7 separate regions of the Homo sapiens genome follow, and all the other regions are reported to be linked to region 2. Evidence: microRNA targets listed by miRTarBase, many of them from high-throughput screens and not tested one by one. Region 2 holds a microRNA gene; each other region holds the end of a gene's coding sequence. Distances are from middle to middle.
Evidence for each region. Region 2 holds the annotated microRNA hsa-miR-205-5p (UCCUUCAUUCCACCGGAGUCUG, at 2,512-2,533, opposite strand). A microRNA usually pairs through its seed, bases 2 to 8, with sites in the 3' UTR of a target mRNA and lowers its output. Matches are read on the target gene's strand: a 7mer-m8 pairs with bases 2 to 8, a 7mer-A1 pairs with bases 2 to 7 and ends in A, and an 8mer does both.

Region 1: miRTarBase lists VAMP1 as a target of hsa-miR-205-5p. Seed matches in the 3' UTR shown: 8mer at 2,727-2,734.
Region 3: miRTarBase lists NCAPG as a target of hsa-miR-205-5p. Seed matches in the 3' UTR shown: 8mer at 706-713.
Region 4: miRTarBase lists TNFSF8 as a target of hsa-miR-205-5p. Seed matches in the 3' UTR shown: 7mer-m8 at 3,338-3,344 and 7mer-A1 at 2,827-2,833.
Region 5: miRTarBase lists CCN1 as a target of hsa-miR-205-5p. The part of its 3' UTR that is shown has no 7-base or 8-base seed match.
Region 6: miRTarBase lists RUNX2 as a target of hsa-miR-205-5p. Seed matches in the 3' UTR shown: 8mer at 2,352-2,359.
Region 7: the mRNA of TRAF3IP1 is a reported target of hsa-miR-205-5p. Seed matches in the 3' UTR shown: 8mer at 3,292-3,299.

What each region holds. Positions count from the first base shown.
Region 1 is chr12:6,460,765-6,464,985 of GRCh38, forward strand. It overlaps VAMP1 (vesicle associated membrane protein 1), which reads right to left. Exons shown (of 5, transcript NM_014231.5): 4 at 4,126-4,177; 5 at 1,473-3,722. The coding sequence ends at 3,706. TAPBPL (TAP binding protein like) reads left to right here. Exons shown (of 7, transcript NM_018009.5): 6 at 91-174; 7 at 1,270-1,552. The coding sequence ends at 1,385. Among named protein-coding and RNA genes, the nearest start is that of VAMP1, 7.8 kb to the right of the region's middle.
Region 2 is chr1:209,430,452-209,434,698 of GRCh38, reverse strand. MIR205 (microRNA 205) reads right to left here and starts at 2,566; the gene lies at 2,457-2,566. It overlaps MIR205HG (MIR205 host gene), which reads right to left. Exons shown (of 4, transcript NR_145437.1): 3 at 4,223-4,247; 4 at 2,150-2,495. RefSeq lists enhancers at 528-1,127, 1,128-1,725.
Region 3 is chr4:17,843,151-17,847,150 of GRCh38, forward strand. It overlaps NCAPG (non-SMC condensin I complex subunit G), which reads left to right. Exons shown (of 21, transcript NM_022346.5): 21 at 152-1,715. The coding sequence ends at 275. It overlaps LCORL (ligand dependent nuclear receptor corepressor like), which reads right to left. Exons shown (of 8, transcript NM_001394446.1): 8 at 1-2,751. The coding sequence ends at 2,738. Among named protein-coding and RNA genes, the nearest start is that of NCAPG, 34 kb to the left of the region's middle.
Region 4 is chr9:114,900,204-114,904,450 of GRCh38, forward strand. TNFSF8 (TNF superfamily member 8) reads right to left here. Exons shown (of 4, transcript NM_001244.4): 4 at 942-4,122. The coding sequence ends at 3,728. Among named protein-coding and RNA genes, the nearest start is that of TNFSF8, 28 kb to the right of the region's middle.
Region 5 is chr1:85,582,289-85,586,535 of GRCh38, reverse strand. It overlaps CCN1 (cellular communication network factor 1), which reads right to left. Exons shown (of 5, transcript NM_001554.5): 4 at 3,912-4,120; 5 at 2,586-3,796. The coding sequence ends at 3,494. Among named protein-coding and RNA genes, the nearest start is that of CCN1, 3.7 kb to the right of the region's middle. RefSeq lists an enhancer at 4,117-4,247.
Region 6 is chr6:45,546,788-45,550,787 of GRCh38, reverse strand. It overlaps RUNX2 (RUNX family transcription factor 2), which reads right to left. Exons shown (of 9, transcript NM_001024630.4): 9 at 1-3,961. The coding sequence ends at 3,483. Among named protein-coding and RNA genes, the nearest start is that of RUNX2-AS1, 28 kb to the left of the region's middle.
Region 7 is chr2:238,398,371-238,402,617 of GRCh38, reverse strand. TRAF3IP1 (TRAF3 interacting protein 1) reads right to left here. Exons shown (of 17, transcript NM_015650.4): 17 at 1,721-3,864. The coding sequence ends at 3,699. Among named protein-coding and RNA genes, the nearest start is that of ASB1, 26 kb to the left of the region's middle.

The DNA.
Region 1 (4,221 bases), not on the chromosome of region 2:
TCCTCCTCCCTGGGGTGGACACTGCAGGTGAGGGCTCAGCTCATGATTCCTGCGCACGATGATCCCCGCCCACGTTGCTCTCACCTACAGAGCGGAGAACAGCCTTGGGAGTCATCTTTGCCAGCAGTCTCTTCCTTCTTGCACTGATGTTCCTGGGGCTTCAGAGACGGCAAGGTAAGAGCCTGGGTGCCCTTGGCTCTGGCCCTGGCCCACCTCACCCACTCTAACCACCCCCCCGCCCAGACCAGGGTGGAAGCCCAGATGCCCCAAGCTCCAGCCACCCACCCATCACAGCCTCCTGCTTTTGAGTTTGCCCTAAATGAAAATGAAACCAGTCGTGTTCCCTCGTTTTCTCCTAGCTACCTCACTAAAGTCTGTCACTCTCCTGCCTCAGAGTAGAAAGAAAGAGTAGTCACGTGCTCCCAGAAGGACTCTAAGTCAAGTCACAGAGCTAAAAATACATGAAGGTGGCACCAGCTCATGGGGCACTGGGCCTGGCTCTGCAGAGGCCTCTGCCTTCCTTCACTGTGCACCCTGGGCTCATGCACCAAGGCAGAGAACAGGAAGAAGTGAGGGGACAAGAAGAAGGCAGAATGTCCAGATGGAGGATAAGACCAAAGAGCCAGGTTGGTGGTGTGACGGTAGGAAAACAAAGCTGGAGGAAATGGAGAAGGAACAAGTGAGGGACAATGAGGCATGGGTTGGGGCTGGGCTACCCCTCCCAAACTCAGCTCTGTCAAAATAAAAGGCCCTTGTGTCTGCTGCGACCAAGCTTTTCCACTTTCCTGTCTTTCTCCACACTGGTCCCAACTGAGCCCTGTCACCAAGCCTAGCGGCTCCAACTTGCAAAGTGTTTAAGTATGAAACAAAGGCCCTCAGAGGCACCCCCGTGGCTCCATCTCAGTTGCACCTCAGCTGCAATTAGGGTTCTGCTCCCTCGGGTGACTGCTGGGAGGTTCAGGATACCTGCAAATGCCTCACTCCCTCAGCTGCAAGGAGAGACTTCTCCTTTTTATTCGTTTCTAAAATGTGCCTAATCAATACGGTGGAACTCAGCATACCAAAACTGTACGTGAGGATGATGGGGAAAAGGGGGTAAGGGGGTGTTCACTGACAGCCTTATCTGGGCACATCCCCTGGGACAGGACAAGCAGGCCAAGGACCTAGGAAGGAGCACAGGAGGCAGATGGAAGAGGCCTGAGGGAACCTGTGCTTGTTTGCCAGTGTGAGATGCCCACGCAACTTCCTGTCTTCACTTCCTCTTACCAGCACCTACAGGACTTGGGCTGCTTCAGGCTGAACGCTGGGAGACCACTTCCTGTGCTGACACACAGAGCTCCCATCTCCATGAAGACCGCACAGCGCGTGTAAGCCAGCCCAGCTGACCTAAAGCGACATGAGACTACTAGAAAGAAACGACACCCTTCCCCAAGCCCCCACAGCTACTCCAACCCAAACAACAACCAAGCCAGTTTAATGGTAGGAATTTGTATTTTTTGCCTTTGTTCAGAATACATGACATTGGTAAATATGCCACATGCCTTTGGTGGAAGTACAACTGTTGTTATTACTCTATACAAGTATGAGATCAGGGTTAGGAAAAAAAGACAAAGAGGTGATGACAGACACACAGTGGAAACCCCACATCGTCTCATGGCAAACCGAAGAACGGGATGTGGGAAGCTCAGCTTCATTTGACTGCAAAGTCCCAGGGTTTTGTTGCACATTTGCTCATGCACATGGGTGGTGGGAGGAAAGGGGGATAGCAGAGACACACAGAAGAGGGTACAGGGTGGGTGAGAAAGAAAGTAGAAGGGCTAATACCCCCAAAGAACAAGGCCAACTACACCTGGTGAGCCTCAGAGGGACAGAAACCCAGGAATGATTCCTGTGATAGGGCTGGGAGAGCCAAGAGGACGGATTCGCTCCAGGCTTGGGACACATCGAGGACAGTGGTGGTTCTTCTCCAGCGGTGACCCCCTGCATTAGGCAAGGAGGAGCCCAGAGGAGAGTGGAGACCTTCGAGGGGGGCCGTTGGGAGGGTACTGACTGCTTTCTTCCAGCTCTTCAGTCCCGCCCTTGGGCAGGACGAAGGGAATGTGGGAAACAAGGGCGAAAGGAAAGGAAGGATGGTTTTGAGCAATGAAATGCTGCTGCATGGAAAGTGGGCATCCAGACCCTGCCCAGCATGGCCTCAGCCTCTTCCTGTTCGTGGACCGAGGGAAGAAGGAATAAAGGGCCATGGGCATTCTCCGCTCTGTTCCCAGCCTGCCCTCCTCCCCTTGCACCTGGGCTTATCCCACATTAATAGCCCATCCTGAAGCTCAGCAATTGCCCCGAAGATAGGCTGAGCAGATCCCATCCTCAGGTTCCACTGTCTATACACACAAACCATGCAAAGAGGAGGAAGAGAAAGGAGGCAAAGTAGAATTCAGACAGGAAAGGGTGGTTCAAAGGGGAATATACTACAGGAAGAACAGAGAGGCGGCTCTCAAGGAGAGGGCCCCATGACAGCACAGCAATACACAAGCACACCTGACACAGGCTGGCACGCCTCCCCCCAAGGTGGGGCTGGTGGGTCTACATGACTTCTCTGCATCCTGAGGATCGGCCGGGCCCCAGGAAGAACCACTTGCCTCATCCCTGTCTTTGGCAAGTGCACGGGTGGTGTGGAGGAAAGGATTCCATGGGTGTCCAAAGATCTCACACTGCTAACACCCTCACGCTCCTTCATCAACAGGAAGAGAGGAACAGGACCCTCTTTAACGAGGGCAAGGAGTGGCTTCCTCTGAGCTTGTTACTTTCAAATTAAGCACTTGACTCACTGTTTCTCTATAACTAACAGGCAATCTCTCTCTTTATGCCAACAATTAACTGGGAGCTAGGTTAAATTATTTGGCTAGATAAAACTACCAGCTAGATGGATTTATTTGGTGCCCTCATACAGAATGCTGTAGAAAATGTAAAGAAGAGAAAGCTCCTTCCAGCTAGAAGCACATGGGACTGCTTCTAGGATGGAAACAAGTCCTGCTATTTTCACAATCCCTAAGTGTTCTCCAGGCCTCTGGAGAACAAAGTAAAGTTGTAAGATCCCCAAAGACACGGAAAATCCTGGACGAACAGATTAGAAATAACTACAAAAAACAAGTTTTTACTTTCGAAAAGGGTACTGCACTGAAACCAAGTTGGACTTTGGTCCACCCCCAGGACCCTCTTCAGGCCTGGTCCAGGAAGGAAAGCTCCACATGACCAGGCAGTACTGAGTGAGCTGCCATCTTCCCAGCCCCTCCCTAGCTCCTACCAGTGGCCAGGTTTTCTAGAAGTCACCATGGGCACCGATACTCTTCTCCTCCCAAGTCTGGGCAGCTTCATGGGTACTTCGCCTCAGCCACTCCCCTCCCTGCCCCTTCCCTTGGCCTCCAACTCTTTGGGGCTTTGGGGGAACTTGAGAGTACAGAAAAAGCAGGCAGGGAGGAGGCGCCAGCTGTTGCTCTTCGGGTAATGACTTAGATTGTGCCACGAGCAGCATTTCTAGTGTTGAGGGACAGAGTGCAAATGAACGCAACGAAAAAGGAGGAATGGGTGATGGAGAAGCCTGGGCTGGAATGGAGGACGGTGGGTGGGGAAGTGTGTTGAGAGAGCAAACAGAGGGCAGAGGACATGAATGTGGATGGCAATGGACAACAGGGAAGGGGTGGTACATTCTCAAGTAAAAAAGTAGACTGGACACAGGAATCAGGAAGTCCCAGACGGAAAAGAGAAAGAGACAGGAGAAAACAAGAGGGTGAATTACACCAAGTTACCAGACATTCAGGTCTCTCCATTGTTAAGTGCCCCATCCCCATGGTCTCCCTCCAACCCAAGCCAGTGACACACAGCATAGCCCCACTTCCTCAGAACAGGAGGCGCCATCTCCCTGCAATGCGTTGCAGGGGGAAGGCTTGTCCATCAAAGAAATCCCTTGTCTCTGCCCTTCCCCCGTCCCGAACCAGGTGACGATCCCATAGCAGCGGTCTCCATACCTCAGTCAGAGCAGCCCCACTCCCCAGGCAGGCAGGCAGGCAGGGAGAAGACTCCAGGACCTTCCCACCTCTTCACCCCACCAGCAACTTCAGCGATACTTACTTACAATAACTACCACGATGATGGCACAGATGGCTCCCAGCATGATCATCATCTGAGGAAACATGGACAAAAAATGAGCCCTTGGATTTCAGGAAT
Region 2 (4,247 bases):
TACTGGGAAACTGGAGCCCGGATGCGATATATTATTGATAGGATTGTAATTTACTCCTCTTGGGTTGTATCTACAGTGTATACCATTAGCACAAAATATTAAATTACCAGTGGTTGTATATATTTGTCTATCCAGGTTTGGCTCAATGATATTTGCCTTTTGCCTCAATAAAAGATTGTGAATAATGAAAGCAGGGTAATATTATTTTGTTGTTGTTGTTGTTGCAAGGGAATTTTGATGAAACCATTTTCTCTGTGTTGTGTTTTTGGCGAGTCATGCTTTGCAATGAAGACATGAGACATAAAAGAGTGGGGGTTGGACATAGAAGATGGATGAGCAGCTTGCTCCAGCTCTGGGCACACACTGGCTTCCCTGGCAAGCTGCTCTGGGCCAGGCTTGGGGCTTTCTTTTTCTGCAAGAGGGAATAAGCAATCTGTGCTGCATTGGTGGGAGGAAGTGGGCAGTTCAGACCTTGGTGCCAGAAATACCAAGCCCTGTGCCTCTCTTGTGAAGATAGCATTTGCATGGGACTTTGGGTGTGGGGGAACCCAACAGCACATCAGGTAGAACCTTTTGTAGTCACAGCATTGTGCCCTGGCTAGTGTTTGACAGTCTACCCTCTGGTCACCATTGTTGGCCATTTTGGTTCCTGCCTCCACCTGGGCCAGGTGGCACATAAATACACAAGCACTTATCTCCTATAAAAAGATTCCAGGTCATAGGGCTCAAACCAAGCTGCAAATAAAAGTGCCACATCGTGTCTGTCGTGTGCTTTTTGTTCTGATCTCAGGGCTTGTTTCAGACCTTGAATGGGAGGTGTTTGCTGGTTAACTAGGAGTTTGCTGGACAAACAGCACCCCACAGTTGGATTTGCTACGCAATTTTTATGAGTAAACATGTTTTTAAAAAATGCCTGTGGCTTGGCTTCTTCATCCTTTTGTTGCCTGTGGGTCTTGGAATGAAGGGGTGGGGGTGACAGAAACTAGGTTTTAAATCTGTATTAACTTGACACAGAAAAATATTTTGGAGAAAGGTTTATTCCTTTTAGTTCCTGCTGGCAATCTGGGACCCTCAGGGGTCAAAAACCAGGGAAGGGTTGGGGGAAGGTGAAGAGACCTATCCCCCTCAGAGGTCACTGGCTGGGGGGCAGGGCTTGGCCATTCAAGTGATCGGTATCCATCTGCAAAGCTGGAATCTCCTTTAGAGTGAGCTCCTAAGAAAAACACCACTCAGCCAAGGAGAGCTATTGTATTTTGCTGCCTGGGGCACATTCTGGAGGTGAAAACCGGTTTTTCTGAAGACTTGTCAGGGCCAGGCTTTGTTCAGAATCTGCCAATTTAGCCAGACTGGCTCCTTAAAGGAGACCCCTTTACCTGAGGCAGGGGCCAATTATAAAAAAGGCTTGTGGATGGCATTCCCTTCATAACTGGGTTGGACTTCCTTCAGACTTAGGAACTTTCTCTTGTTCCACACCTTCTCCTTCCTTAAAAAGGAGAAACATGGAGTAACACACACACACACACACACACACACACACACACACACGCACACCCAATCACACTGAATTGTAAAGAGAATGAAATCAGTGCTAAATCTATCAAAGCGTATCATAGACCCTGACAGCTGAGAGGTATTATTTGCTTTTTTCCTCCCAGATTTCTACCGAGCCTGGTGTTTTAAGCTATGTCTTGGGGAGAAGAGACCCATAGAAAGGCAATTACAATTGGTGAATGATTAATGTTGGATCTGACATTTTTATGTGTCAAATATGTTTAACTGCATTAACCTTTGCAGAATCTACACCCATACTATGAGATATATCTTGTATAGCATCGGAAATATCTGCAATCTGCCTTCACTTAAATTTTATTTACATTTACTTTATTACAATATAAATAGGTTTAAAAAATCTTTAATAGAGTGTTTTTACCCCATTCTGCAAGTTCTGCTTGCTCTGTGGGGAGTCTAAGGGCAGCAGGGTTCCTTGCTGATTGCAAATAGTGTCCCAGCCACCTGCCTGGGGACCCTAAAGAGAGAGGAAGCCAGTGTCAATTTTTCAAGTTCATGTCTCAGTTTTAGCCTAAAGGGGAGGTGGCTTAGAAGGCCGGGAGTTGGCATCCGATGGTATAAAACATAGAGGCAGAGAGGCTTTTCAGTAGACAAGCAACTTTTAGTTTTTACAAGTTACAGAAAACGCAAATTTTCATAGCATCAATTTTAGAAAAGAAAGATTAAGGTTCCCATCTGCGGTGCTTTTTCCAATCTGCCCATCACCCGTCCCTCTGAAGAAGCACGCACACTCCAGATGTCTCCTTCATTGATCACATTTCTCTCTGGCTGTCTCTATTCCTAAGTCAGAGTTACTCTTGCTGCTGCTGCTGCTGCTGCTGCTGCTGCTGCTGCTGCTACGGTGGTGGCGGCGGCGGTGGTGGCGGTGGCTGCCGAGGCCTCATGGTTGTCAGCTCCATGCCTCCTGAACTTCACTCCACTGAAATCTGGTTGGGTATGAGACAGACTCCGGTGGAATGAAGGACAAGAGAAGCACATGGATTGTCTGAGGATCTTTTTCTCAGAGGGTGGGGATGCATGTCAACCTCAGCCTGTAGACACTGCATTACCTGGCCAAAGGCCTTTGGCATCCCGGAATCACACATTTGGGAGATGTCAAGGACCTGAATACTCCTACCCCTCCCATAGGATCACATCCTCCAAGGAGGCTGCAGAGAGCTAGTTCAACACGTCCTTGCACCTGCTGCACAGACAGACAGTGCTGAGTTGGGGAGGTGGGTCTGTGGGGCCAGGGACTCTTGACTGTTTCTCGTTTTCAAAACAGCCACCCAGATAAGTCCATGTGGAACCTCCTCTGTGTTTACCTAGTTGGGATGTCGGTCACCCTCTCCCTTTGTCTAGGTCCCACTGTGTGTGCCATAACTGAGCTCGGTGTGGTTGGTCCTTTCTAGAGGAAACAAAGAAAAAGCAGGTGTTCTGCAATTGCTTTAGAAAAATCCAGCTACTCTGAGCTTGCTTACCAAGGCCTTGGAATGCAGGGGCATGGGCATTCCTCTCCACAAGGCACTGTCCAAAGAGCACGAAGAGCACTTTGCAACCCCGTTTGCCAATGTGAAATCCAGAAGAGATAGGTGAGGAGCTCAGGAAAAACCACAACTCCTGGCTGGAGCCAGGCCCATTCATGGGGGTGGGTGGACAGAGGAGGGTAAGACTCCTTGTTCTCACTCCTAAAGACTTATCTAGGAAGGACAGCCTCCAATGGCCCCACATCCTCCCCAAGATGTGCCTGGAAAATGATTCAACTATTTCTTTGTTGGTCATGAGGATGGAGGATTTAGGGAGGAAGAAAGCAAGCTAACCTGGCTTTCATAGACTGAGTCAAATAGGAAGGACGCAAAGTATCTAAGAGTTTTCTGCTCTGTCTTAAAAGAAATGCCCATCAACCCTTTGCGTGCTGTTGCTGCTCTGGCCTCTTCCTTGTTGTGTTCAGACATGCCCATGGCTCAGTGCAAGCCCCATAAAAGGCTGTTCTCAGCACCAACATGCAGGCTGGATGGGTTGGGGCAGATGCACCTTGTTGTTTGAAATACTTTCTTCCTGGGGCTTGTTCTGACCCGAAGCAGGGAGGCAGTTTCTCGTATGTGGCTCCTCCCCACGCATCTAGCCTTCTGGGCATTGGGTCTCTCTGAAAAAGGCCCTTAAGCAAGGGCTTGAGGTTTCTAGCTAGTGCTGAGAAGGAGTCACACTCTCCTTGGTCTGAATGTAAAGACTCTTTGCCAGGGTGAACACGGGGCTTGTTGGCAGGCAGAGATCTGGGTAGTGAGGGGAAGAAGACTGGTTCATCTTCTCCTGCTCTGCCTTCTTGATAAACACTCACAGTTCTCAATAATGAGAGGAAAATGCACCCTGCTTGTGAATTATCTGGACCAGATCCTCCTCCTGCACCGCCTTTGACCCATTCCCAGTCAAAGGGAAGAAAGAGGCCAGTCTGTTGGCTGTAATAAATAAATGATGGCCTGGGATGGTAGGAGGAAATGATGCCAGGAAGGCAAGATTCTTTGCCTTCTCTTTAGATTTCTGCTTAACTCCAAGAGCAAAAGGGGCAGTCAATTCTTCTCCCTCCAGACCCTCGGCACCCCGCTCTTCCCCTCCCAACATGTACAGTCCACTAGATTATTAAAGTCCTCACTCTGGAGTGTGCAGAGAGCCTCACCCTCATGTGGGGTCCGTACCCTCCA
Region 3 (4,000 bases), not on the chromosome of region 2:
CATTGAGATTTTAGTTTTAAGCTAAGTCAATGGAATCAGGCTATCAATTAAACACTGATAGAATGTGAGTCAGAAACAAAAAAGTTTTATTTATAAATAAACTGGTTTTAAAGCTTGTATCTAAATTCGTGTATTTTCAACATCTATTTAGTGATCATGAAGTTCCAGAACCAGAATCAGAAATGAAGATGAGACTACCAAGACGAGCCAAAACCGCAGCACTAGAAAAAAGTAAACTTAACCTTGCCCAATTTCTCAATGAAGATCTAAGTTAGGAAAGACGATGGAGGTGGAATCCTTTAAGATTATGTCCAGTTATTTGCTTTAATAAAGAAGAAGTTACCCTTGTCAAAATCAGAACAAACCTGATGTCTTTCTGAAGATTTTCTGCTGTGCGCTTCCACGTTACTTTGGCCTGTATTAAAGCAGTAGAGCAGCATCAGTTATTATAGTCCAGAAAAAGTGTGCATCAGTCAGTCACACAGATTTATCACAATCTGAGGTGGGCCTAGGAATCTCATTTTTAAATAGTCTCTCCAAGTGATTCTTATGAACTCTTTATGTTTAAAATCATGTCATTATGGAAAACTTACAAGTGTAACTAGCTAGTAGCTTGCATTTGAGAAGCTTATGACTTAGATGGGCAGAATCAACAAAGATGAAACCGCCTGAGGACACATTTAACAAGTAACATTTCTAGGGAAAATGAAGGAAGTACCACAAACTGGCTAGAAAGGAGCTTATCAATCACCAGTGAGGAAGACCAGTATAACGTTCAACAACAGTTATTTTGACAAAAACTTATTTTGTGATTCCTACAGTGAAAACATTTTTGGTGATATCTGCCTGGGAAATCTCTCTTCCTAAAGTATTTGTATATGGGAGTCCTTGTTTGTGAATGTTTCCTGGATTAGGGAGGTGTCAACATAAATGTATTATTAACCATGAAGCTGCTCGCTATATTTTTGGCATAACAAAATAATATTTATTTACTGTGGATAATAATTCTAGTGGGAATATAATGTGACAGGAACTTCTCTTTATATACGCTACCAATTTATGAGCACTATTCACTGTCAATTTCATTTCTTGTCTTTTGAAATTGACACTTGGCCTGACTTACGAAACTTGTACTATATGAAATTGGTCCTCTTTTCTGCAATACCCAACGAAACACCTTTTCTCTTTATTATTCAGAAATGTCCTAACATGGATCTGTTTGTTTTAATAATTGTGCTTTTTTTAGGCTTATCATCTACTAGAGGCCATTTACTTAAGGTGAAATTTTAAGATGGAGCTAAAGTAAGATCACTGGTTTTTAGAACCAAATTGCTATACATATGTGCCTCATAGAACTTATAAAAGGAGTCAAAGTTTCAAAGCAAGATAGTTATTAAGCAAAAGGAAAAATGGTAATGATAGAAAGTCAGTTAAAAATAGATGATTGTTCTTCATTCTGTTTGTTGGCTCTGTGTTCTCCTGTGCTTCAGATTCCTTATGTGTTGTTGTTTTAAAGACAATTTGCAGGGGGTTGGGAGAAGGACTGAAAAGGTACATTAAGTGTGCTGTAAGGAAAAGTCTTAGAAACATAATAAGCTAAAATCCCATTCACACATGGCCAGGCTATCCAAAAAGAAAGGAGCCATGTTCTCATGTGGTTTACCATACCAAAGCTTGCTTTCTCTGGCATGGGAAAAATAAATTTAAGCACCAAACCTTTAGTATTCTGAGTATTCAGTTTTTAGACATAGTCATGTAGCCATTGCTGAAACTGTGCTTTGCACTATTAAAGGTAGGGAATGTCCTGCTTTTAAAAGTCATCCCTTTAACTTTAAAATAAAAGGCTAAGGTACAATAAAACAGATGTAAATCCATTTACCATTTTTCATTCAAAACTGGTAACTTACAGAAACCACATAGTATTTTTCTCTATCAAGAGGCACAGATTTGCTGAACAGTAAACATGCAATTGTGCCATTGCTCTTAAAGCCCACAGACTTAGATTTAAAATACAGAGAAAGAACTGATAAGCTCACATTTTCCTGTGAATGGGAAACATGCTACTTGACAAAAAGCTATGATCAACTTTTTTTCTTCTGTACATATATAACGTTGAAGGAGATTTACTTCTAAGAGATACCTTTGCCTTTTCTTTCACCAATTTGCTTCGAGGTAGTTGGTATCCACCTGTTTTACAACTGCTCATGGGTCAGGTTATCATCACAAATCTTTACAATACTAGCTTTATAAATCACAATGTGTTATATATTAAAACTTTGTGCACAGAAATAAAACTAGGGACAATTACGTATTTAAACTTAGGGCATAAAAAATTCACATAATACCACTAAAAGAGAAACATCAAAATCCGTTTACAAAATTCCACAATGATCTGATGTAAAACATGTAAAAAAAACATATAAAGAATATAATCAAAATGATTAATGCTAATGATTTAATATAAAGACAAATCACAGGACTAGAAATACTTCAAGATCAATTGATAAATGCTTATTGTTCAGAAGGAATACTGACATACAAAATAAAGATAGTGCAAGAAGAACTGCAATCTATTTCTCTTCGCTTTTGAGATTTTGGTTATGAACTGTACAGCTCGTTAGAGATGCTGTTGTCAAATTCAGATTCCATTCAATGGGACGATTAAGGCACATCTTAATGGGGCTCAAAGGGCAACTTGCTGTATTCTCATCAGACACATTCAGTTTCTCATCAGTTTTCACTTGTAGCATGCTGGAAGAAAAAGTGTAAGGCATTTTAGTTTTACTTTAATTTCAAAGTAATTATCAACCTTGTAAAAGAACATTTAGTTGTAGTAGTGTTTGGACCTCTAAATTTTAGCATACATAAAGCATTTATCCTGAAAATACAACAGTTTTCTCTCCCGCCTACTTACTGAACTAAATACAATGAATAATGCCATGTAACCTGTGTAACTTGAGAAGTTACATATGACTGAAAAAGTAACATTGCATATATGGATTACATCAGTATACATCAGAAATTATTTAACCTTGTGAGCCTGGTAGGATTCAACCCTTTTAACTTGCCCTTTTGTGGATCAGAATGAGAGCCACTTTGAGAAAAAAAAGGGATCAACATTTGTTGAATGCCTATTACGTTCTAGCCACCTTCACATGTATTGTCTCATCTGAATTTTGCAAAAGCCAAGTAAGGTTGGTATGCTTATCCTCATAGTAAACAATAAAATCAAGACTCTGAGAGTTAAGTACAAATATGCCTGAGGTCATACAGTCACCTGCCTGGAACTGGAATACAGCCCTTTCTCTTTTCCTTATGCTTGTCTACTAAGCTCTCTGATGAGGCTGGAAAAACATCAGGAATTAAACTTATGGCCAGCTCATCAGAGGAGCATGCGGCATCCACAGGATACTCTGGTTGTTTTTTCTGTTGAAAAAAATTTCCAAGAATTTTTTACATTGATGGGAAAGTTGGCTTATTTGGCTTTACATTAGGTTGGTCAGATCTCTTCAACATTATTCTTTAATATACACCCTCTGTTCTGGACTGGTGTCTTATTCCACAAGTTCATGAGCACAGTCCTGTCTGTTCCTAAATGTTCCCACATAGGGAACCTTGCTCACCACTCTGCTTAACCAAACCTTTACCCATGCCTAATCCAATCTCACATCTCTGAACTTGCTCTCAGTAAAACATTGCATTGGATTGTGAACTATTTGGGGTTCTCCACTATTGTTTCATGTCTAATAGTCTGATAACCCCCTCTAGATCAGAAGGAAAGGATGGTAACATTCTTTTCTCTGTGAAGATAAGCACAGTGCTAAATACACAGTAATTACTCAAAAATTCAATAAACATTTATAAAAAGCCTGTTGTGAAACATCTGGAGCAGAGTGCTACTCTTCAGAATCACAGACACGTGACAGTCAAAAGGGGAGCTAGTCCACTCTGTGTAATGAATACGCCATCCCTAGTTTTAAATATTACTTATAGTCCACAT
Region 4 (4,247 bases), not on the chromosome of region 2:
CTGAGGGAAGCTGGCAGAATCTGTCAGACAAGGGAGCCTCCCACAATTCCAGGAATACCACTTATTCTGGGATGGAAGGGACAAACCCTTAAATTAAGAGGATGGAGAAGTCAGCCTGTATCATCTCTAGAACACTCCTGAGAGATCTGCCAGGCTTGATGGAAGTCCCATTGGTTGGAAGCCCAGCAGGGAGCAGACACTTGCGAAGTCCTCGAGTGTGGTTAGTGAGAGAGCTGGCATTTGAGCCCAGTCTCATATTCCAATCTCCATTATTTCCCACCAGCCTTGATAGGGCCTCCTATAGCCTTTCTGCAATTCCTCAGGTCACGTCTTTCCAACCTTACTTTGGACAGTCCCCACATTTGGAGGTTTCCTCTGCTCTTCCCTGCTCTCGCCCCGGTCACTCTGGGATGGTGATTTGAATGTGAGACACAGGTGGTCTCTATCCTCTATAGACTCAGTACATGGTCAATATATGATTCAGAAAAGGGTTAGAGGCCAGGTGTGGTTGCTCACGCCTGTAATCCTAGCTCTTTGAGAGGCCATGGTGGGCAGATTGCTTGAGGTCAGGAGTTCGAGATCAGCCTGGCCAACATGGTGAAATCCCGTCTCTACTAAAAACGCAAAAATCAGCTGGGTGTGGTGGTGCGTGCCTGTAGTCCCAGCTACTCAGGAGGCTGAGGTAGGAGGATCACTTGAACCCAGGAAGGGGAGGCTGCAGTGAGCCAAGATAGCACCACTCCACTCCAGTTTGGATGACTCTACATTGACTTGTTATGTTTTTGTGAGCTCACTTACCATCTTCCTCTACAAGTTCTGCAAGTACACTGAGTGTGTGTGTGTGTGTGTGTGGTGGGGAGGTGGGGTTCAGAGGGTAGGAGCAAGGGAAGGAGCTCAAGTTGAGTTTTTACCAAAGAGGCATATGTTTTAGGTAGCCTGAGTTCCCAGTTAGATAAATTATTTATTTTACTTGCATAGATATCATTTTACTCATGGAGTATCATTTGCTCATAACATTCCCAGGGGCTGGTTAACCCTCAAGAGTAACAGAATTTAGTTTTAAACTTCCTGGGTTGCCTACTCCCTACATATCTATCAGTTGAGTTATTAATGATTATTCTCTTTTTTTGTTTGTTTGGTTACATTATTCATTTAAATGATGTACCCCTTGTGTCTTTAGGTGTTGGCTTTCTTAGCATTGCTTGACAGAGACTGAGATTAGAAACCACTCACAGTGCAAAAGTCAGGTACCTCTGCTCAGAGAACAGTTGGTGAAAAATGAAAATGGAATCTTTCTCGAGTTAGAATGTGAGATGGCAAAAAAATTGCTTAGTTAACACACAGTTGGGTTGCATATACCTTTTCAAGAATGCATGAGTTGGTTTAAGCAAGATTCATTTGTCCTATGCAGTTAGTGTGTGACTCAAATGCCAGCCATTTCCCTGTTTTTTTAGCCTTGAGTCTCAAAGTCTGTTTTGTTTTTTACCACAGACCATTTGGCTTGCTGAATTCAACACCTCTTCCAATGCCTGCTTCTCCCAAAGAATCTACTCACAGAAAGAGTTAAAGAGAAATGTAGACTTTACTAAATATTTCATAGAGGAGACCTAGGAGGAGGTTGACACAGCACACTGCTCAGCAGATGACTTAAAATTTTCCCTTAGCCATTTTTGTTCTCTCAAGTCCCTTTCATCCATACCACCACTGCTGATTTGTTCTTTCTTTTTTTCTTTTAAATCTTTTCTAGCTTTCCTTCTGACAAACTTTGCTGGAGTCCTACTCCTTTTCTCTCCTTCTTGAGAAAAATGCAAATTTTGCTCCATGTTTTGGTATAGCAGGGAAGCTTCCATCTTTTTTTACTGAAGCATAACATCAGGGCCTACATTCCATCTCAAACGGCTTGTCAAGGTCCTTCCACAAATAAGATGTTCCTCCAAAGATGATGTACAGATGCCAAGTTGGATATAGCTAGAGAAATCTCATGGCTACCCCAATCAGGAGAGAGGTTGCTGTTTCTCAGAAGTCCTCCTCCCCACTTCCAGGGTCATCATTGTCTCTCAACAACTTTGTGGGGATATAAAAACCCTCGCGGAACTGGTTTTCTGAGAGGTGTTTGAAGCAGGAATATATTATGCAGGGGATGGAGCAGCCATTCCCTGGCTAGATGACCACATCACTGTTGCACACTGATTGTTTGCTAAAGGCACAATGCTTTCCTGACCAGAAATGAAAAATGCCTGCTGCTCAATTATTGTCAATCTAACTGGAATAGAGTCAGGCCTCGTCAGATGGTTTCCCAAACACCCAGATGGTCTCTTAGATTCTGGATGGTCAGTGTGGTAGTTCTTTCCATTACATCCTTGAGATCCTGCTGTTCACACCATTCAGCAGGGCACCCTGAACCTTGTCCCCATATTCTGGCTCTGCTGAGATGAGATGCAGTCAGGTGTTACTAGTGTCTTCAATTATATACTGGGGTAGGGGGGCCTTATTTTGGTTGGAGAGCTTCCAAAATTGTGTCTGGAATCTCAGTTCCCAGGGTCTGGTCTTCTGAGATGGAAGAGGTTTTGAAGCAATTCAAACCCAGTCCTTTCATTTTCTAGACTTGGATCCTGAGTTCCAGGGAGGGGAAGGTATAGTGAATTCTTATAATTTTATGTTGCCTTGGCAACCATTTTGTATACAAGTTTAATTTCTCATACCAGAAGCCGGGCTTAGTCACCCTTGATATGGGTTTCTGGTTCTATACCACACCTCTGGCCAGAGACAAGAACTTAGAGGCATCTTTCCTGCCTAGCAGACTGGATTCCCCACTTCTCTGTTGCTTCCTTCAGACAGACCATTCAGGCATTTGCCAGTGAATTGAGAGTGACCACACCCTATTTCTTTACCTACATTGTTAACTGTCTTGCTGTCTCTGTCTGACTTCTTATTCCTGCCTCATGTAACCTAGAGAAGGAGGACTGCCCTTCAGACTCATTATGCCCTTTCTGTCCAGGATCTGTAAGTAAAAGTCTTTGAACTTGTTTTCCATTGTGGTGGTGTATTAAATTTGTGCTTTCCATCTCAGGAACAGGGGGCTGTCCCAGCCTGGTTTTCCCTGGGGGTTCCTAGGGGTGGGGTCATATGGAGTACAAGATCAGCCTCCTAGTGCCAGAGTGACAGTCAGACAGGCATAAACTGGGCATGGTTCAGTCACAAGTGTATCTGCCAGTATAGGGAAGTTTCCTGTGTGAGAGAGTCCTTGATCGCGACTTGGACAACTAAGTATTAGGCCATCTGCAGATAAAAGAAGTATCCCGTGAAGGGCACAGTGTAAACACTCACACCCAGCTCCCCTTCATTTCCCATTAGGGCAGAGTTGCTAGCTGCTCTGGTACTGGAGCCCCATTTTAACTGGAGGCTCTCAAAACAGAAGAAATAGATCAAGACCATACAGTGAATTAGAGGTTGGGCTGGGACATCCATTCATCCCTTCTGATTCTGTGTGGGGCTCTGCCCACCACACTACATTGCTTCCCTGCCTGCTATCTGAAAGATACTTCACTAAAAACTCTCTTTTTAACCCTGGAGCTGTATCTTTCCAAGAGACAGAAGGAGAAGTATACTATTTAATACCCTGTGTAGTTTGTCTTGGTCTAAAGTTTTCTTTTTGCCCAAGTGTTTGGAGGGATGAAATACTGTATGGTAGAGAGGCGCTTTCTTCCTGAAGGCCAAGAGAAACTGTTCAGTCTGAATTACTGTATAAGAAGATGGACAACACATTCTCAAGAGGAAAGGTGCTTGTATCTATGTACTGGAATGTATCCACATTGACTGATATGGTGGTGTTGACCTGCAGGTAATCCAGCAAGAATTGAGAGAGATTCTGGTATACGTGTTTCGTTTGCATTCCAGACTCACACACTGTCACCAGGGCCTGTTTTTTGATATGCTTGTTGATGAGAAGCTCCAACTTCAGATCGACAGAATTATTTGGGCATTGTACAAGAAACTGCAGTTGGCAAATGATGAAGTACAAACCAGGGAATTGGATCACCAGATTCCCATCCTGATATCTGACTCCATGGAGAATGCCATCTTTGTTCCAAGACAACTTGGTTTTGTTTAGATGCTTTGCCACTAGAAAGAGAAGTATAGAAAACAGAATTATTGAGAAGATTGTAGGTACGCATTGCAAAATTCTAAGTCTTTGTTCAAAGTTTCCCATTCAAGACCCATGTTTTCTGTAATGTTCCAATCATCTG
Region 5 (4,247 bases), 120 Mb from region 2:
AGGGCAAGGAGTTAATGAGGCCTGGATAGGGCTATACAGTGAGGTTAAAGTATGGACCTGTAGACTCTGAGATCCAGGAATTGCTGTGTCCTCTAACCAAGGGTGCTTTAGAAAGTAAAGGGGGGGGAAGGGGTCTAGCCACAATACATTTTCAAACGCTTCATGGAAACAAGTGCATTTGATGACAGAAAGCCTTGAGCAGTTTTCAGTTCACACATGTGGTTACTTGAGGAGATAAAAGTTTTAAGGTATGAGAGCCAATGTACCGAAGTGGGTGTATGAGAAAGGGTTTTTGGGGTGACAAAAATGCTGAAAGCTATTTTCCTACTTTAACATGAGGGAGTGAAACAGAAACTTGCCCAGAGTCACCTAGTGAATTCATGGCAGAGCTGGTGCTAAAAGACATGATTCCATGGGATTCTTTCCACTGTATCACCTGCCATTCTGCCCAGAGCATAGCTTTGCTCTGTACTGTGGTCATACTGAACCACTGCTATTGCTCAACTGACTTTCAAGTAGTGCCAGAAGGCTGCAAGAAGAGGTTGTGAACAAACCAAGTCTGTTCCCTCTGTTGGAAAACATAACTCTAAAATATGCTTTGCTAATTTTGACTCAGTTGCATCTCTTTGTGGAGCAGACAACACATATGTTCATATGAAAAAATAGTCATAGTGAGACTACTTGCTGTGCTGCTCAATGTCCCATAGAGTATTTCTTAAAATTCGTGGAATGCCTAAGATTCTGAGATCACTCTCTCAGTTCTAAAATCTCTACCAAAAAATAGCTCAAGACCACCAGGATCTTTTGGATTGAAAAGCAAGAACAACCCAAGGTCTTTACTGTGCATGGGAAGGTACATATATATTATAATGAATATTTCTATATGTAACTTCTATTTCATATATGCAGATGCATAATTTTTGGTTTGTTTTCTCAATATTTAAAGTGGGCAGAGCTCCATTCTGGATGTAGGTAAAACTTACGTGTTCTAAATATCATAATTTTATTCTCCACTACTTTTAATTTCTTCAGGTTTTTCTATAGCTAAACAAAAGACATAATTTGCTTGTATTCATCTTCTTTATTAATTGAACACACTTATTGTAAATGGAATTGGCACTTTCAATCACCCTCATTATATTTACTAGGATGAAATTAATAACCCAAAGATTCAGTGTTTTCCCATACTAGGTTCTGTTTCACATTTGAGCTTATTTGGACAAATACTACTTCCCTGCACACTGAAAGGATCTGTAAAATATTGCTCCTTGATCTCTGCATAAGAAGCAATTTGTTGGACTCCAGTGTTGGAGAGCAATACTTCAGGGTTGATGCTTGGGAATGTGTAAATCTTGCCTATGGATTTAGATGTCTGTTCAACAAGATTGCACCACAAAAGCCTCACACCTTTATTATGTTTCACACGTTACATTGCACTGACAAGTTTAACTGCATCCACGACTGGGCCAGCTGATGTTTAAATTCTCAAATACCTTAACATTTGAATGTCTCAGGCAAGAAACCTGACTATTCAGAAGGCACAAGCTGTAATATTTCAGGCAAGTCAAAATCAGAAGTGAAGGCTTTTGGCCATAGATTTTACTAGTGCATTTATATTAACCTCTATGCATTTCCATAAGGCTTTAAAACCATTTCTTAGGCAGTATTTTTCTGTGGGTCTTCATTAAAGTATGGATCTTATTTAATCTACTTGGAAAAATCCCTTCAGGATCCCAGGAGCTGTCCTCCTCCATTCCTTTTAAAAGCACTTTCTCTTCTGCCTAAAAACTCAAGTACTCTCTTAACTAAGTGCGGACTGAAATATTTCACTATGGATTTGAACAGGAGCCAACAGTGATGATGAAAGGAAAACTTCTCCCTATAAAAGGTTTATTGTCAGCGCTTTCTAAAGATGAAGATGCTTCTGAAACAGACTACTGACATTTTCACAAACATTGACACAGCCTTCTCAACCTCTCCTAGACCTATGATTTGGGTCCCTTTCTTTTAGGAATGCTCTGGACCTTTGACCTTCTGAATAGCCAACTCTATATAACTGCTCCCTCCCCCATCAATATAACGTATATTATAAAAAGGAAAGGGGGATGGGGTAGCTTGGCCCTCACGCTATTGGAAAAGTAGTTGAAATTCCTTGCATTCCTTTGCATTTAACAGCATGTTTACCTAATCACCGGCTTATTAGGATTAACACAAGTCATGCTTCAAGCTCATTTAGTGAAAACAAACTGACTCCTATAGACTCAGATTTTTCCTCATAACAGCCAAGGGTAAATTTCTAAGTAGTTCTAATTTTTAGGAACGGTATTGGGAAAATATAAAGTTATAAACAAGCAAGTCTTTAGAATACATTAATTATATTCAATCTTGCCCATGGGTCTGGATGTGGGCAGCCTGAGTTATGGACTACCCCTTTTCATTAAAGGGTTTCTCTACTCTACTAAAGTGGCATGCCCACTAACCTGGTGATTAAAATAATAAATTATTATAGCCATCTCACAGAGTGATGGAGACCCTTAGGCTTTATATTCTGATGAACATGAAGCGCTGTTTTCTTAAATCACAAATTTAGCTTCAGAATCTTTATTGTGCTTCATACAATGTCGTGTTCAATACATGTTTTTTAAACATTACTTTATATGCAAAGACTTTTCTCTACTGAAGGTATAAAAGCAATCATTATCTTATTTTAATAGCTTAATTCACTGCTGTATCCCAATAAGTCCTGTTTGAATAATTGAGTACGTGAGCTAGGTTGTTCCTAATGACTTTGGAGCACCTCTAAAAATACCGAATGGCATACACTCAGATATTAGGTAAATATTTCTTTATTAAATGGTTAATTCCATAAATAAAATCTTTTCACTGAATATAAAATTAAAATCATTTACAAATTATTCCAGTATTACATTTCCCCTCCCTCCCCAAAAGCTACATTTTGATAAATAAAACATTCAGTCTTAAAACACCTGATTTCTGTTTGCAGTTTAGAGTGCAGATAGCTGCCTCTCACAGACACTCATGGAGTGTCCCCCTTCAGGAAGGGATGGAATGCCCTCCCATTTACTTTTGTCAAAGGACGAATAAAAGCTTTAAACTGTCCAACTAATCTTATTATCTCTTTTACGACTGTAGAACCCCAAAAGGAAAAAAGCCTAGAGAAAATATGCTTAGCAAATAATTTACAAACAGAAAACAGAAAGTCATCAACTCCACAAGCTCCAAAATGAAGCAGTAACATGTGCTCCAATACTATGAAGCAAAGTATTCTCCAATCGTGGCTGCATTAGTGTCCATCCGCACCAGCACCCTTGGCAGTTTCGAAATACCTTAATGCTCCTCAAGAATGAGCAAGGCTTCCTTTCTACAATGAGTCCCATCACCCACACCACCCCCGCCCATTTTCTCCATGATTCTGATTCTGACACTCTTCTCCCTTGTTTGTCTAGGTGTGCCCTGGAAACCCAGGTAGCATTTAGTCCCTAAATTTGTGAATGTCATTGAACAGCCTGTAGAAGGGAAACGCTGCTTCATTGGCATGCGGGCAGTTGTAGTTGCATTTGCAGGACTGGATCATCATGACGTTCTTGGAAAATGTCTCCCCATCTTCGCAGCGGAACCGCATCTTCACAGTCCTGGTCAGCTGGGGCGTGCAGCATCGGCCGTCCACGCAGGAACCGCAGTACTTGGGCCGGTATTTCTTCACACTCAAACATCCAGCGTAAGTAAACCTGACTGGTTCGGGGGATTTCTTGGTCTTGCTGCATTTCTTGCCCTTCTGTAAGAGAAAGGAGAGAAGGAAAGTTAGGGGTGATATTTCTCTTTCTTCAAAAAGATGTTCACATCCCACCCACCTGCCAGGCAACAGTCTACACGTCCCTGAAGGAACTTACTTTCAGGCTGCTGTACACTGGCTGTCCACAAGGCCGCACCTCACAAATCCGGGTTTCTTTCACAAGGCGGCACTCAGGGTTGTCATTGGTAACTCGTGTGGAGATACCAGTTCCACAGGTCTTTGAGCACTGGGACCATGAAGTTGTTTGAACAATACATTTCTGGCCTTGTAAAGGGTTGTATAGGATGCGAGGCTCCATTCCAAAAACTAGAGACATATAAGAGGGAAGACTTCTCAGAGGCATACCGACACAAACAGGCTCAAGCACTCATTTCTACAAAGATTTAGACCAGAAATGCATCTCAGTACAGTGTCTGAAGTGCTCAGTCTCCAC
Region 6 (4,000 bases), not on the chromosome of region 2:
TGGTAAAGCATATCCAAAAGAAATGGAATTTTATTCAGAATACCTAAGAAATTATTGTAAGTTATGGTTTTGGCTGATATATTTCAAAGTACTGCATTAAAAAGCAAACAGTTATTTGTAAACATGAAGTAAACACACATCTAAAAAATTCTCACATAGAAAATATTTTTAAATGCATTCGTTTTCTAAAAACAACAAATTCAAGGTTTGGAAGAAGTGTCTTTTATTATTGTTCTTTCAAATACCATAGGTATAATTATTACTTTTGCTAATGCTTCGTGTTTCCATGTATTAACCTGGATTCTGGGCCAGTCCCTTTCCTCGGAATTGAGGGAATCCTTAAAGCTGTACACACATCTCCTCCCTTCTGAATTTATCACAGATGGTCCCTAATGGTGTGGACTTCTCTGCTCATTTTGAAAGGGCTCTGGCAAGTGAGAGGCAGTGAGACCGTCTAAAGAGCAAACGATAGTTAATCTGTTGAGTTTCTCAGTTCTGGGCTGAATGTTATTCCACTAATCTAAAACCAAAGCTGTGGTACCTGTTCTGGAACTCTGATATGGGTTAAAATTTGTGAGACAACTGAAATGGATAAAAATGTGGCTGCATTGAAAAGACTGCAAATTCCAGCAATGTTTGTGCTACAAAGAGAACCACGCTATTTTAATTCCCAGGAACTAGTACATGGTTCCACAGTAGTAGTAAGACTTTGCTTTGGTCTTGAAATCACAAATCAAACACATGACCCAGTGCAAATTAAGGGTTCAGTGAAAAAAAAAAAAAAAGAAAGAAAGAAAAACAAAATTTTAATCCCTAGACCAAAAAAGGGCAGAATTTGTTCTAAGAAATGTGAATTACCCCCATTGGGGTGGTTGGAGTGAGGGTGGAGGGAAGAAGTGCTTGAATTTTTCCCAAGGAAAAAAAGCTTCTAAAGTGTTTCTGGGTTGCTGCCTGCAGCCACTATAGTAACATTTCAACACAAAAGCATCCCTAAAGTCACTCGGTATGTGTACTGTAAACTTAAAAAAGCCCTTTTAACATTAAAAAATAATGTACAAATATAGTACCTTTTTAATTAAATAGGATGCAGCTGGCACTGGCGGTAGCATTTTTATGTCAATTAATTAAAATTGAAATGTGTAACCAGACACTGGCTTTTTTAAGTGCTGCTGAAACAAACACACATATTTTACACTTACAAATAAATGGACAGTGGTGTGCTTCAAGCTACCACACACAAACAATAAATAGTATCAATTACTACTTCCTTCTTACTTAAGTAATAGAAAAGTGGCTTATTTATCTAAGCATACTTGGTATACGGCCTTTAGAAGGCAAAGTGTTTTGCTTTCCCATCCATTTTTATTAGAAGGAGTCAGGATGAATTCCAAGGGAGACTCCCAGGCAGGAAGCACAGGTCCAGCTGCCCCACACGCTGTCCTGCAATGCTGGGTGGCCTACAAAGGTGGGTTTGAGAAGGACCAGAGAACAAGGGGGCCGTTAGGGTTTGAAGGCAAATCTCTGCTAAATTCTGCTTGGGTGGGTGGAGGATTCCAATGAAGGGACCCTGACTTTTCGGGGAGGAGAGCAGGGATTGGCCTGGTGGTGTCATTAGATGATCCTTGTTTGGATTAAGGATTTGCACTTGGAAATCTGCCATGTGACTGCCAGGAGTGGTCAAAGTGCATGCCACAGAAGGACTCTAGCTCAAATTCATACACACTAGTAGACACCAAACTCCACAGCCCCTTGCCCTCCTTGGCCCTCCATTGTAAGAAATACAAATGTCAAAGGCTGTCTGTAGGTCCCCGTGGGCCATATGTCCTCTCAGCTCAGCTACCTGCTGGAACCTGCTGCCTTTTCAGAGGACCTACTCCCAAAGGACAGTGATGTCATTCTGCTCCTCTAAATGCAAATTCTGTGGAAAGCTGCCAGTGGGGCCTTGGGTAAGGCAGATTGGGGTTCCCCTGTTGTGTTGTTTGGTAAGGCTGGTTGGTTAAGAATCTCTGGTGCAATTTTGCTCTCCTGTACTAGGTGTCTCATAATTGAACCCTCTATCCACATGTGCGGCTTTTAGCTGACTATGTCTTTGCTATGAAGCCTGGCGATTTAGAGTTTTGCTTAACTATGAAACCACAGAACATTTTTCTGTAGTTCAATGATTTACTTGTGCTTGTCTTTTTAATATGACAAGAGTCATAATTACCCCAAAGAAATTAGAAAACCACATCACTCCAGCATTTCATGCTGATAAAGGGCTAAAGGTTGTTTTTTAAATCCCTAATTACCGCTTTAGAAGGCAAAGCTGTGTTAGAGGCATTCAAAGATCTGAAAGAACTAAACATAACATTTCCTTCATACATCACAAAAACAATCTATATCTAAAATATTTGGAGATGGAAGTATTTTTTAAAATCACATTGTGCCTGGATGAACTGAAATTGCTTAGCAATATTTCAGATATGGCTCTAGACCACTGAAGAAATTTGTTATTTAATAAAGAGCACTTTTAGAGACCGAAGTCAACATATCAATACACTAAGAAATGTTTCAAGGGTCCAAATGTCATTAAATAATTATAAATATATCTTTAAAGTTATATGACCATTCACGTTAGCAAGTTACCTCAGATTTTACACATATTCATAATTTAAAAAAAAAGAAAACAACACATAGCCAAACGCAATCACTATCTATACCATTATGGCTATAATAATGTATTGCCATTTTCAGTTTTGCATAAAAGGAGAAGGCAGGTTTTAGGGATGGGATTTCTTTTTGGTTCAGTGGGAAAAGGGGAGAAGGAGTGTTAAAAAGTAAAATAAAATAATCTATCCTGATCAGTTATTTTTGAAGTCACTTTCTTGGAGCAGGAAAAAAAAAAAAAAAAACGAACCCAACAGTTCAGATGAGGACCTGCAGCATGTCTGAAAGCAGAAATTGGAAGAGTTATTCTGAATGATGGTACTGTGATGGAAGCATCCATTCTACCTCATGTCCCTTTAGTGCACCTCAACTGGTTTTGTGAGCTGTCTGCGGAGGGCACTGGTCCATACACAGCTGCCACCGTGAGGGTGTGAAGTTTCAAAGCACAGAGAGGAAGCGGCTTTGCTCTTCTCCCTCCTGAACCTGGAGTCCACCTCTCTGAATTGGCATATGAACAGGTTATTGATGATAACAGACCAAACAACAAAAACAAAAATACCTTTTCCCTTCTTTGTTCCTTTGTAAAAGTACATCTTAAATAGTAAACAATCTGAAGCTCGATTGCAATTGTCTCTCTTGAGCCTTCTGCTTCTCAATATCTACCCTCTTATGGCTGCAAGATCATGACTGAGTGAGTGAATGAAAAATCTTCTAAAAAATAGGCACTTTGTAGATAGCTAATCGATATACATATATATGCACTCTCTCTATATATGTATATATTGATACGTGTGGGATGTGGCCCCCAGATACCACTGGGCCACTGCTGAGGAATTTCAATATGGTCGCCAAACAGATTCATCCATTCTGCCACTAGAATTCAAAACAGTTGGGGAACTGCTGTGGCTTCCATCAGCGTCAACACCATCATTCTGGTTAGGCAAATTTGGATTTAATAGCGTGCTGCCATTCGAGGTGGTGGTGCATGGCGGAAGCATTCTGGAAGGAGACCGGTCTCCCCCCGGCACCATGGGAAACTGATAGGATCCTGACGAAGTGCCATAGTAGAGATATGGAGTGCTGCTGGTCTGGAAGGGTCCACTCTGGCTTTGGGAAGAGCCGGGGTAGGGTGGTGGCAGGTAGGTGTGGTAGTGAGTGGTGGCGGACATACCGAGGGACATGCCTGAGGTGACTGGCGGGGTGTAAGTAAAGGTGGCTGGATAGTGCATTCGTGGGTTGGAGAAGCGGCTCTCAGTGAGGGATGAAATGCTTGGGAACTGCCTGGGGTCTGAAAAAGGGCCCAGTTCTGAAGCACCTAAAAATTATAACAGAAGATGGAGGGAAAAATCTGTAA
Region 7 (4,247 bases), not on the chromosome of region 2:
CAAAACAAGTTTTATAGTTTTTGTTTTTGTTTTTTTTTTTTTTGAGACAGAGTCTCACTCTTTTACACAGGCTGGAGTACAGTGGCACAATCTCGGCTCACTGCAACCTCTGCCTCCCTGGTTCAAGCAATTCTTCTGCCTCAGCCTCCCAAGTAGCTGGGATTACAGGCACCCACCACCACGCCTGGCTAATTTTTTTTATTTTTAGCAGAGACAGGGTTTCACCATGTTGGCCAGGCTGGTCTCGAACTCCTGACCTCAGGTGATCTGCCTGCCTTGGCCTCCCAAAGTGCTGGGATTACAGGCGTGAGCCACCACACCCGGTCAAGTTCTACAGCTTTAAAAGACATTTAAATTTCTCTTGCTGAATTTAAAAGAAACCAAAGTCCCTCCCAATATCCCTTTATGAAAATACACATAATCAAAAAGGGGTTCTGACTAGGGGGCTTCACTAATGCCCCAATGTAAAGCTTGCATAAACCATACTTATTGAAACACCTTTTAGGAAAATATAAAACATTTTTATTAATAAAGTGTATCCTATGATAGAGTTAAACTCAGAGCCCAAATGTAGCAAGTAGTTACATTTGAGAATCACTGAGAACAGCTATTCCTTCTCCTCCGACTTAGGCTGGCTCATGCTTGACTTAGAATTTTTCTTACTTCTGCTTTGCTACATTAGTCTTTGCTGGAGAGCCCCTCAGAGGAGCCCACAGTGGTCTACGTAGAGGCGCCATGAACAAGGTTATTTACTCTCTGCACTTTCGGGTGTGGAAAGAAGAGTCCAGAGTGGGGAGCCAAGTCCAGGTCTGGGTGTTTAGTGTCTTCCCTGACGGTGACATGCTGAGCCTTGATCCTGCTTGGGCGTGGCCTCCTTCTGAAGCAGGTTCCTGCGGAAGCTCAAACAGGCTGCTCATCCTGCTTGCTGCTGGCTCACACTGGCTACTGATCCCAAAGCTGCTCAAAGGCCCTGGCCATCTTTTCTCTTACTCGTGTGCCATGACACTGTGCACATCGACCAACAGAAGATAAACCCCATCAGTCCAGGGCAGCTCAGAAGACTAGCACCGGAATAGTTCGGGGGCACTCGTTAATACACTGACTAGAATTCCATATCACCCAAATCCTAAGTAGCACTTCATGTCACCAAGTGACATCATTTTTCTTCATAGATTTCAGTTTTTAAAAGTTGATTATTAAAAAGAAAAATAAGGATGAATATCAAAGTAGAAAGCTGCATTTTAGTCTTGAACTATTTCTTCCAAAGGTCTATTATGCATTTCCTTTGAATATAAATTATCATCAGCTCAACTTTTAAATTCAAATTCCTGAAGTATGACTCCAGTACTCCCTGAAAACTTATAAACCAAAGTATAGAAAAATACTTAATAATCCCATTTGTGTATTGTCTCAAAATAAGAGAAAAATTAAATTTCTCAAATTAAGATCAGGATCTAGTGTGTAGGATAAGATACAGTAACAATCACGTGTAGAGACCTTCTAAAACTTCACAAATGATCTTACAATTTCTGATAAATGCTTACCTATCTTATAAAACTTCAATTCATACTGAAAAGAGATGTGTCACAATATGAATGAAAAGATGTATTTCCCTGAACTTTCCTCACGAGAAAAACAAAACACACACATTTGAAAATAAAAAATCCAAATGCTTATGATTTTTCCATGTGTGAATCGAACTGCACAATCCATACACTTATGGAAAAAATATGTGATTATTTTTAATGATTTACGTATAAAAGAAAAATAAACTTTATGATACAATTTGACAGACTACTTCATAAAAAATTTTACTTACATACAATGTATGCAATTTTTGGCAACCCCCAAACTCTATTCACATATACAAATTCATAAAAGGCAGACATCTCAACTTGAAGTAAAACAAGGTCCATTCAGGGTCATGGCTAAGTCATTTGATTCAGTAGAAAAGAGATTATAAATACATGAAGGGCTACTTAACTCATGTCCCTCCACTCCCCCAAAATGTATGTAATATAATCTGATCAAACAGAATTTTATGGTGCACTATAGGAAGGAGAAAAAGACCAGCGTTTCAGAATGGCAGATCTTAATAATCTGCTCCTGAACTTATTCAGCTCAGAAAATCATATAACAACCTGAGTACAGAATTTATTTTGGAAATTGTATGAAGAAAAACCCAACGGTGCCATTTGTGCTAATCCTTAAAGAAACAAAACCTGGCCGGGTGCAGTGGCTCATGCCTGTAATCCCAGCACTTTGGGAGGCCGAGGCAGGCGGATCACGAGGTCAGGAGGTGGAGACCATCCTGGTCAACACGGTGAAACCCCATCTCTACTGAAAATACAAAAATTAGCTGGGCATGGTGGCGTGCGCCTGTAGTCCCAGTTACTCAGGAGGCTGAGGCAGGAGAATCACTTGAACTCGGGAGGCGGTGGTTGCAGTGAGCCGAGATTGCGCCACTGCACTCCAGCCTGGGCGACAGAGTAAGACTCCATCTCAAAAAAAAAAAAAAAAGAAAGAAACAAAACCTTTTCAGGCAATCCTCACACTTTAAATGGCACTCCTCAGTTTACATAATAAATACACTATTTAAAAGTATTAGGACCCAGACCTCAAGACCCATAAGTATGTCTTCAAACACAATGAAATGTTTTATACAGTAACTTAAGACTCTGCTAAGTATTTACAATAGTATATGTAAGTGAAAAACTATAAACCATGTTTTTAAAAAACTTTTGCTTTAAAAAACAATTTCCAAAAAAATGGCTAACATCAAAAAACGTCGTAAATCAGTGCATCCTTTTAAGTCTTCCTTATGTTGTTTTTCCTAAGCTGCCTGTCTCTCGGTATGCACACCCATGCAAAGGAAAAGCCATGGCGCCAATGCTTTGCAGAGCGAGACCCTCTTAAGGAGAACAAGGACTCCGGGGGGCTGCGCTAGCCTCTGTCTGAGGAAAACCAGGGTAAACTGCGGAAGAAAGTGAGGATGTATGTCCAGACAACGTCCATAAAGGCCATCCTGAAATCTCCTTTTTAAATTTATGAACTTTAAGGACTAGAAACACAAGCAAACGATAGTAGAGATCAAGAGGAAAATTACATAGAGAAGTACATGCAATTACAAAGAGGTCAAAAAACAAAAATGAAAACAATCCAGTTGATAGGTACCTGATATGGAGACAGGCTGAGGTTAGCCCTTTCCATTGGAAATTAACTAAAAATATAATGTATTCATTTTCAGGCCTCATTCTACTTATCAAGTGCCTATCAAAAAGTACACAGTCATCCTTCATTCGGCACTGACCTCTGAAAGTCTTTCCACTAAACCAAAATAAAGGACTACTGTTCCCTTGGTATGCCCACACCACTTACCTGCTAGAGAGTTCTGGTACAGAACTAAACAGGTTACAGCAGAAACACAAAGAACAGGCTTTCAAAAAAACTTTTCACAGAGGTGTTTGGAAGCGCTATTTATAACTAGCCAGTATTCCATCTGGAAGGAGGTAAGAAAACATGGTTTTTTTAATACACTTAACATGCTTACAGTTTTAAAGCTCTGAAAATTAGCTGGATAATAACATTGTAAACTGTTCATTTTCTTAGCAAACTGGAACTTAAAAGAGTAATGATTTTCTATCTTCCTTTTTGCTTTTAAACTGAGGTGACTTTTCATCTCTGAAACTTTTGAGTGTTCACCTTCTCGAAGTCAAATTGATACTATATACCATTTTCTGGATTTTTTCTTCATTCTTGAGGATGTTGGCCTTCACAGCACAGATCTTGTCTTGCTGGTCTTTGATCAGCTGCTCCAGCTCCGCGAGCTCAGCCTTTAAGGGCTCCACGGCACAGTCTGTGATCCTGAGGGAGAACAAAACCAGCGGCTCATCACTCTCTCATCTCATTGTGTGTTGGCTTCTTAATTAAGACATTGAAAGACAACAGAAGTAAATTATTCGTTTCATCCAAAGAAAAGGATAATATTTATTTCTTATTTTCACAACCCCTGCTACAACCAAAAGTGAAGTCAAACATGAGATTTATAAAAGCAGCAGTTAATATTTCTTCAATGATAATCTTGAAGTCCTTAAATTACATACAGAACAACCTCTGGGACAAGGAGGTATGCAGCAAAGTCCCCATTGACTTTGGGGATCCCCCCTCCACTACCCCCCACCTATGTTCCTGCCGCAGGGCCTCTTCCCCATTACTGCCCCACTCCGCTACACCCCTACCTCTGCTCC